Homo sapiens: one gene and its partner. The protein of the gene in region 1 interacts with the protein of each later gene in a biochemical or structural test. Each region holds a gene or a part of one and is shown on either strand. Other genes may lie near its edges.

Region 1 (3,748 bases):
TTTTTTTTTTTTTTTTTTTTAGACGGAGTTTTGCCCTTGTTGCCCAGGCTGGAGTGCAGTGGTGCGACCTCAGCTCACTGCAACCTCCACCTCCCAGGTTCAAGTGATTCTACTGCCTCAGCCTCCCAAGTAGCTGGGATTACAGGCATGTGCCACTGTGCTGGCTAATTTTGTATTTTTAGTAGAGACGGAGTTTCATCATGTTGGTCAGGTTGGTCTCAAACTCCTGACCTTAGGTGATCCATCTGCCTTGGCTTCCCAAAGTGCTGGGATTACAGGCGTGAGCCCTGTGTCCTGGCAGAATTATTTTATAGCCAGAGGATTTAAAAAGTTATCCCCATCAATTACAGCATAATGTACACATACAATTTGTGCTTATGTACCACCATATAGTTACTGACCTTAAAAACAAAAGGAAGGAAGGTCTGTTCTGATAAAGGAAGGCATACTCACGTGACAAGTAAGATGGAACCCACACTGAGGTGGGAGATCTCTGGTGAACAGGCCAGGCTGCTATCCATCTCAAAGAGGTAGAAACAATCTTGGACTTTGCCACGCTCCTCAGACACAGGGTTAAAATTGTCCTGATGATGAGATGGCATAACACATTCAGGTGGTTAAGTGTTTTGACTCCTGTCCAACAAAATAAAAAACCCAAAAAACATCTGCTCCTTCCTGGTTCAGCAGCCTATTTTCCATGGAAGATGCGTGTCTGACACAGAGAGAAACTGAGCTCCTAGTTTTCTAATGTCCATCCCAACGTATCGTGTCCCCTCTGGATATTCTCCCCAACCTCAGGTCAGTCCTTTCAGTCTCCTCCCTCGGCTTATACAACACAGGGTGCCTCACCGCTAGGGTGTGTCGATTGCAGGAGATCATCACCACTGCACGACGCTGCTCCTTGCCACAGTGGTTGTCATATTCATCACCCCCTTTATAGATCAGCATGATCCAATTACCTGAGGAGGGACAAGGAAAATGGAGCTATGGGGTGGGGGAAAAGCAGAGGCAGATCTGGGTGGTATGGCAGAGTGGAATTGCGTAATTCATTGCAATTGGTTATAACTAAACAACCCTCATCAGTACGAACTTGGTATACCAGAAATGCCAAGCTAAACTTGTTTGCTTACAAAGACTTGTGTTCCCTTAAGACAAGAATCAGATATTCATTTAAGAATAATCTTAATTTTTAACATTAAAGGTAGGCAACTGACAATGCAAAACCAATTATGATCCATACCTTAACACTGATTCATTTTCTGAATACCTTCTAAAAGCAAAAAAAGAGGTTCCATACAATTGCTGAGCAGCAGGGGTAAGCCCATCTAAGATTTCAACTTAGCCCCAGATAAATTCAGAGTGGATATCTAAGATTGGAATGCATATCTCTTCTTTAGTATTTACTGTGTTCAGTTCTTTTGCAAAATATCATTTGATTCAGTAATTGTGAGGTGAATAAGGTAAAGATTCTGCTCCTAGTTTTGCATATGAGAAAACAAGGTCAAAAGGTGATACGACTTTCCAGTCACAGGATTAGGAAACAGGAGGAGAACCTGGTCACATGATCCCCAGCCCCAAACCCTTTTGTTACTTTTTTATTGTATTATTTACCAGGAGTAAATAGCTACCTTGTATAACTTATTTATCTGTATGGGAGGGAATTGGACCATAGGTGCTTACATGGTCCTCTCCAGCAATATGACTTTTAAGAAATATCACCACCATAGCACAAAAATCAGTGGGTAAAGTTTTGCAGACTGAGTAGTTTGCAAAAAAAAGTTTGAGCTCTTAAAATTTAACTGGTAAACTTTGATTAATTTGATGAAAAGTGGTGGTGGTGGTTGGTATTTGTAAGTCTAGTGTGAAACTCATTAAAAGTATTTGGGTGAATAAAAGGACTCTAGGCTACAGAATTCTGGCTAGAGTTGGCTGGGCGCGGTGGTTCATGCCTGTAATCCCAGCACCTTGGGAGGCCAAGGTGGGCAGATCACGAGGTCAAAGATCAAGACCATCATGGCCAACATTGTGAAACCCTGTCTCTGCTAAAAATACAAAAATTAGCTGGGCATGATGGCACACACCTGTAGTCCCAGCTACTCAGGAGGCTGAGGCTGGAGAATCGCTTGAACCCAAGAGGCTGAGGTTGCAGTGAGCCGAGATTGTGCCACTGCACTCCAGGCTGGGTGACAGAGAGAGACTCCGTCTCAAAACAAAACAAAACAATTCTGGCTAGAGTCTTCATTTTGCATAAGTTTTTCACTGATTTTAATGCACAACTGTCCTGAGCTGTGGCTTACAGAGGAGCTGTGGAATTAGGCATCCTGTGGTATATTACAGTCTCAGGTGTGCCGAACCACACGTATGATATGCTGAAGACACTAGAAACGGCCAAGACATACAGGATTGTCAGAGGGATTGACTTGGGATCAGTTAGTCAATCGATGGTAGGAAGGGGAGTTTTCTTACTTCCGTTGAAGATGTGAGTCTCGTTGAGTCTCCCTACCACTGTCTCCTTCCCATTACTTTTGTTGATTTGCACCAGGCCTGCCCCAGAAGTGTGGTTGCCAGCTTCCCGGCACACCCTGAAGATGTAGATGTATGTGTCTGAACCCTGGCCCACAGTGCTCTCAAAGCTGTAAAGAGAAGTGGGAAGAAAGAAGAGGAGAGTTACTAGCTATCAGCCTCAGGAATAACAGCATCCCTTTCCTTAATTAAAACAAAACAAACAACATGCTCGATTTATTTATTTGAGGTCATGGCTGAGTGAATATTTGTTTAATTTTAAGATATTCATAACCTTGACAGACCATCCTTATTGCTGATGATGAATTATTAAAACACACTTGAGCTATCTTGATAGCTCAATATTCTAGTTATTTTTAGAATGCCTGTTAGTAACCATGTTCCAATGAATAAGGGCCCATGTTCATCGGATAGTCTCGTTTCTTAGGGACCAACTTCAGATTTATATATCTGAAGGTTCCTGACACTTATAATGACATGTGTCGGCCTAAATATGTTTATCTGATATTTCTAAAGTCCTATTATATGTAGGTGTCAAATAATCCTTAAATTTCTACAAGCTGGTCTCTTGGATCCAGTCTTGGAAATAGCTACACTTCTGTGAAAGATGAGAAAACTGCACACAGCAACTAAAAACTGGGCTGAGAATTTGCTCTATGTCATAAAAGAGAGCACATTATGAAATAAAATCAGTAAGAAGAAAAGACTTTAACATAAATATTTTCTCAAGCTCTTTAAGGTTCTTCTCATTTACCTTTTATTAAACAGTGGTTTCAGCCTCTTCACTAGAGCCAACTCTTTCTCTGACTCTTTACCCTTTTCTCCTACCAAGTCGCAAGTTTTTTCTTCTGTCTGCCAGGATTCTCTCACTGCCACAGCCAGGAGTAGTAGTAGCAGTCCAGTCCTCCAGCAGCTGTAGAAAGGGAACATCCTTTGGGAGAGAGTGTGTGTTGGGGAGGGCAGGTAGGATCAGGAGAGAGAGGAAAGAGATAAAGCGTATGAATGTGTAATAAATCGATGGTATTTTAATTATCCAGAAAGTACAAGATTCTCTGGCATATGCAACACATAGTACATTTTAATATCTCTGTAACAAGAGCATCTGCAGCAGAAAATTCATTTATATGTAACTTGTAGTCTAATGTATAGGTGAGTCTTTCAGAACAAACTACAAAGTTGGGAAGAGGGAAATGAAAGAACTTAAAAAAGAATGATGACAGCTTGG
Region 2 (3,748 bases), on another chromosome or scaffold:
TATGGGCTGCTTTCCTGGGGAATTCTGGTGTGAGCCTAAGAACCTGTGGCCTTGAGTCTGAGCATCTTTTCCCAGAGGAATGAGGCCCCACCTCCTGGTGGCCTTGCTTCGATGTCCCCTAAGCAGAACCCAGCAAAATGATGATGTTTTGCAAGCACTAGATCTGGAGTCCAGATTGGGTTCTTTCCATTTTTTTTTTTTTGTTTTTTTTTTTGAGACGGAGTCTCGCCCTGTCGCCCACGCTGGAGTGCAGTGGCGCGATCTCAGCTCACTGCAAGCTCTGCCTCCCCGGTTCACGCCATTCTCCTGCCTCAGCCTCCCGAGTAGCTGGGACCACAGGCGCCCGCCACCACGCCTGGCTAATTGTTTGTATTTTTAGTAGAGATGGGATTTCACCATGTTAGCCAGGATCGTCTCGATCTCCTGACCTCATGATCCGCCCGCCTCGGCCTCCGAAAATGCTGGGATTACAGGCGTGAGCCACCATGCCCGGCCTTTTTTTTTTTTTGAGACAGAGTCTTGCTCTGTCGCCCAGGCTGGAATGCAGTGGCGTGATCTCAGTTCAGTGTAACCTCCATCTCCCAGGTTCAAGCGATTCTCCTGCCTCAGCCTCCAGAGTATCTGGGAATACAGGTGCCCGCCACCACGTCCGGCTAATTTTTATATTTTTAGTAGAGGTGGGGTTTCACCATGTTGGCCAGGCTGTTCTCCAACTCCTGACCTCAAATGATCCGCCCACCTCAGCCTCCCAAAGTGCTGGGATTATAGGCGTGAGTCATCCTGCCCAGCCCAGAATGGGTTCTAATCCCAGCTTGGCAACTCACTAGGAATAGGAGTTTGGGAAGGCAGCATCCCCTAGGAGTCTTGCTTGCCACATCTGTGAAATGTGTATAAGTGTTTCACAAGAGCCTGGAGTCCCTGTGGACTGGAGGAGACGCTGCTCCGGGGAAGCTCAGATCCGTGCCCGGCACATAGTAAGTGCTCCATAAACTATCTCACCGCACTCTGGCTTCCACGGACAAAGGGGTAAAGCCAGCCAGGAACCAGCTTCCTGCTAGGTACAAAAGTCCCCCAACTGGGAAGTCAGGTGAGAAGACATACCTACCTCCCAGTGATCATTGCCTAAATCTGTGCTTCTCCTCACCTCCTTTGGAGCCTGAGCTCACCTGGGCAGGGGGCCAGGTAGGCAGGCATCAAACTCCTGGCCTCGACCGATTCTCAAGTCCCACTTAGGACTCAGGCAGCTTCCTCCCGTCCCCTCTGTCCACCATGACTTCCTGGAACTGGTTTAAGCAAGGGTGGCCATGGCAGATGTCAACACCCTATGAAACCCCTGGGGGTCAGTGACCTGCCTTGCCGCTGGCTCCAGAAGGGGAGCTCCAGGCCAGACCCAGCCATCCAGCAACTTCAGAGCATGCTAAGACTGGACTTCCAAAATTCCAAGGGCCCCAGGTCCCACTGCCAGGCCTAGCCGGGACAAGAACCCCAAAGCAGTTAACGGATAGGCCTTCCTACTTTTAAGCCACCTCGTCGCCACGCCCACCCGAGGGAAGTGGGCAGGCTTTGCCCAAGACCTCCCCAGAATCAGTTGGGGGCGCCAGGAGCTGGGGCAACCCCCACCCCCACCCGTGGCAAAACCATCTGTAGGGGAGGGGGCTTTGCGGTGGCGGGGGGTGTCTCTGAAAACCCCAGAAGGGAGGGCGGAGATTCTGCCCGCAGGAGGAAACTTGCCTGCAAATGGCGTTTCCAAAAGCAAACTGTTCAAAATTTAGAGAAAACCTGGTGGGCGGGGGGCGGTATTTAGCCCACCCCCTTCAATATCACCCCTTCTACGGGGCTCTTTCGCCCCTCAAAAGTCCCAGGAAGTGAGAAGAGGGTTTCAAAGTCTGAGCTTCGTTGCAGAAGTTGGATTTTTCTGGGGGGAGGGGTGACCAGCCTGGGCTGAAGACCCCTCCCCAGGCCGCAGAGTCCAGCAAATCCCACCCCGAGAAAGGCCCTCCCCGACCCCTCCGGCCCCTGGGGTGCCCCAGGACTCCATGGACACCGCCCCCCAGCTCAACTGAGACGCCCCCGCCACTCACCGCGGTCAACCGGACGTCCCAGGAACAGCTGCCGCGACTTCAAAACCAGCTTGGAAACCGTCCGGGCCGAGGCGGGGGTGGCTTTTACTGCGTGGTAGGTTGGGGGCGCACTGGAGTGACGGGCGAGGGGACCAATCAGGTTGAGGGATTGCCCGCGCCAGGCCCGCCCCTCTCCTCCCTGCCCCGCCTCCACTAGGCCCCGCCCCTCGCCAAGTCATGAAGTCCGGGAAGGACTCCACGCCCTGCCCCTGAAGGGGAGGGAGCACTCTTGGACCACGCCTGTCCCAGCCACGGGACCCCCGCTCCGCAGCTGGGGACCCTGTGAAGTTGGCCCTGGGAGGTGAGTGCGATCGGGGGCGCCGCACAGGTGCTGGGATTCCCCAGGTCGCCCATTTCCCCTATGGCCAAACTGAGGCTGCGAGAACCCTGGGAGAGTTGCAGGGTGACCCTCGCCAGCGCGTCAGGGGCCACGCCCTCCACCATGGGCTCCGACTCAGCTATATGTACACACACACACACACACACACACACACACTTTTTTTTTTTTTTTGAGACACAGTCTCGCTCTGTCGCTAAGGCTGGAGTGCAGTGACGCGACCTTGGCTCACTGCAGCCTCCACCTCCTGGATTCAAGCGATTCTCCTGCCTCAGCCTCCTGAGTAGCTGGGATTACAGACACGTGCCACCACGCCCGGCTAATTTTTTGTATTTTTAGCAGAGACGGGGTTTCACCATGTTGGTCTTGAACTCCTGACCTCAAGTGATCTGCCCGCTTGGGCCTCCCAAATTGCTGGGATCACAGGTATGAGCCACCGCACCCGGCCCAACCCAGCTATATGAGTGACTTGAACCACCACGGGAACTTGTCCAGCCTCCGGCCTGATCTGCCCAACATCAGACCACTTCATCCTCCCAGCACTGTATTGTCTTTTTAATCATCCCTATTTTGCAGAGAAGGAAACTGAGGCCTGGAGAGGGTCAGCCAGGGGCAATGGAGGGGTCAGGCTCCAGGCTCTGTGACTGCTGGATCAACCTTTTCCTGAAGCTGCCCCCACTTGGATTTTACCCCGCCCCTCTCCACCTCCCAAATTATTTATCCTCTTGGTCTATAAACCAAGGTCTCAATCTCAGATGGTCCAGGGAGGAGGTGAATATTTCTGCTGAGGAGGTGGCAGTGATGCCCTGCTTAGAGGGGCAGGGGAGAGCAGTGCCCTATGGGAGACCCACCTGGAGAGTCACAGATCCACAGGAAGTTCAAGCTGTAGACATGTCCTGCCTGTTAGGGAACAATTGGACCAAATGAAACCCAACTGGGGCTTTGTCCAGCCCAGGGGCCACCAGTTTGCCACCTCTGCCAAATTATTTGAATAGAATGAAGCTTCTGGTAGCTTTAGAAAGAACATGGGAAAAATTGGGTGTCTGTGACTGCATTTTTTTGGGGGGGTGAGTGGGGACAGGGTCTATGCTAGCACTGTCCAATAGAACTTTCTGCAATTCTAGAATTGTGTGCCATCCAACATTGTAGCCAAAAGCACCACGTGGCTAATGCACAGTGAGAAGCTGAATGTTTAAATTTTTTTTTTTTTTTTGAGGCAGAGTCTCGCTCTGTCTCCCAGGCTGGAGTGCAATGGCGCGATCTCGACTCACTACAACCTCCACCTCCCGGG

Evidence for each region.
Region 2: the proteins of M6PR (region 1) and PLIN3 form a complex in vitro, tested with the Homo sapiens proteins (2 studies listed by BioGRID).

Annotation. Positions count from the first base shown.
Region 1 is NC_000012.12:8,942,952-8,946,699, forward strand, and holds part of M6PR (cation-dependent mannose-6-phosphate receptor isoform 1 precursor), read right to left. Parts: intron 3,455-3,748; 5' UTR 3,454-3,454; coding exon 3,278-3,453; intron 2,634-3,277; coding exon 2,467-2,633; intron 960-2,466; coding exon 850-959; intron 634-849; exon of another isoform or gene 603-633; coding exon of another isoform or gene 585-602; coding exon 454-584; intron 1-453. UniProt on the Homo sapiens protein: Transport of phosphorylated lysosomal enzymes from the Golgi complex and the cell surface to lysosomes.
Region 2 is NC_000019.10:4,865,528-4,869,275, forward strand, and holds the start of PLIN3 (perilipin-3), read right to left. Parts: upstream 2,141-3,748; 5' UTR 2,082-2,140; intron 1-2,081. UniProt on the Homo sapiens protein: Structural component of lipid droplets, which is required for the formation and maintenance of lipid storage droplets. Required for the transport of mannose 6-phosphate receptors (MPR) from endosomes to the trans-Golgi network.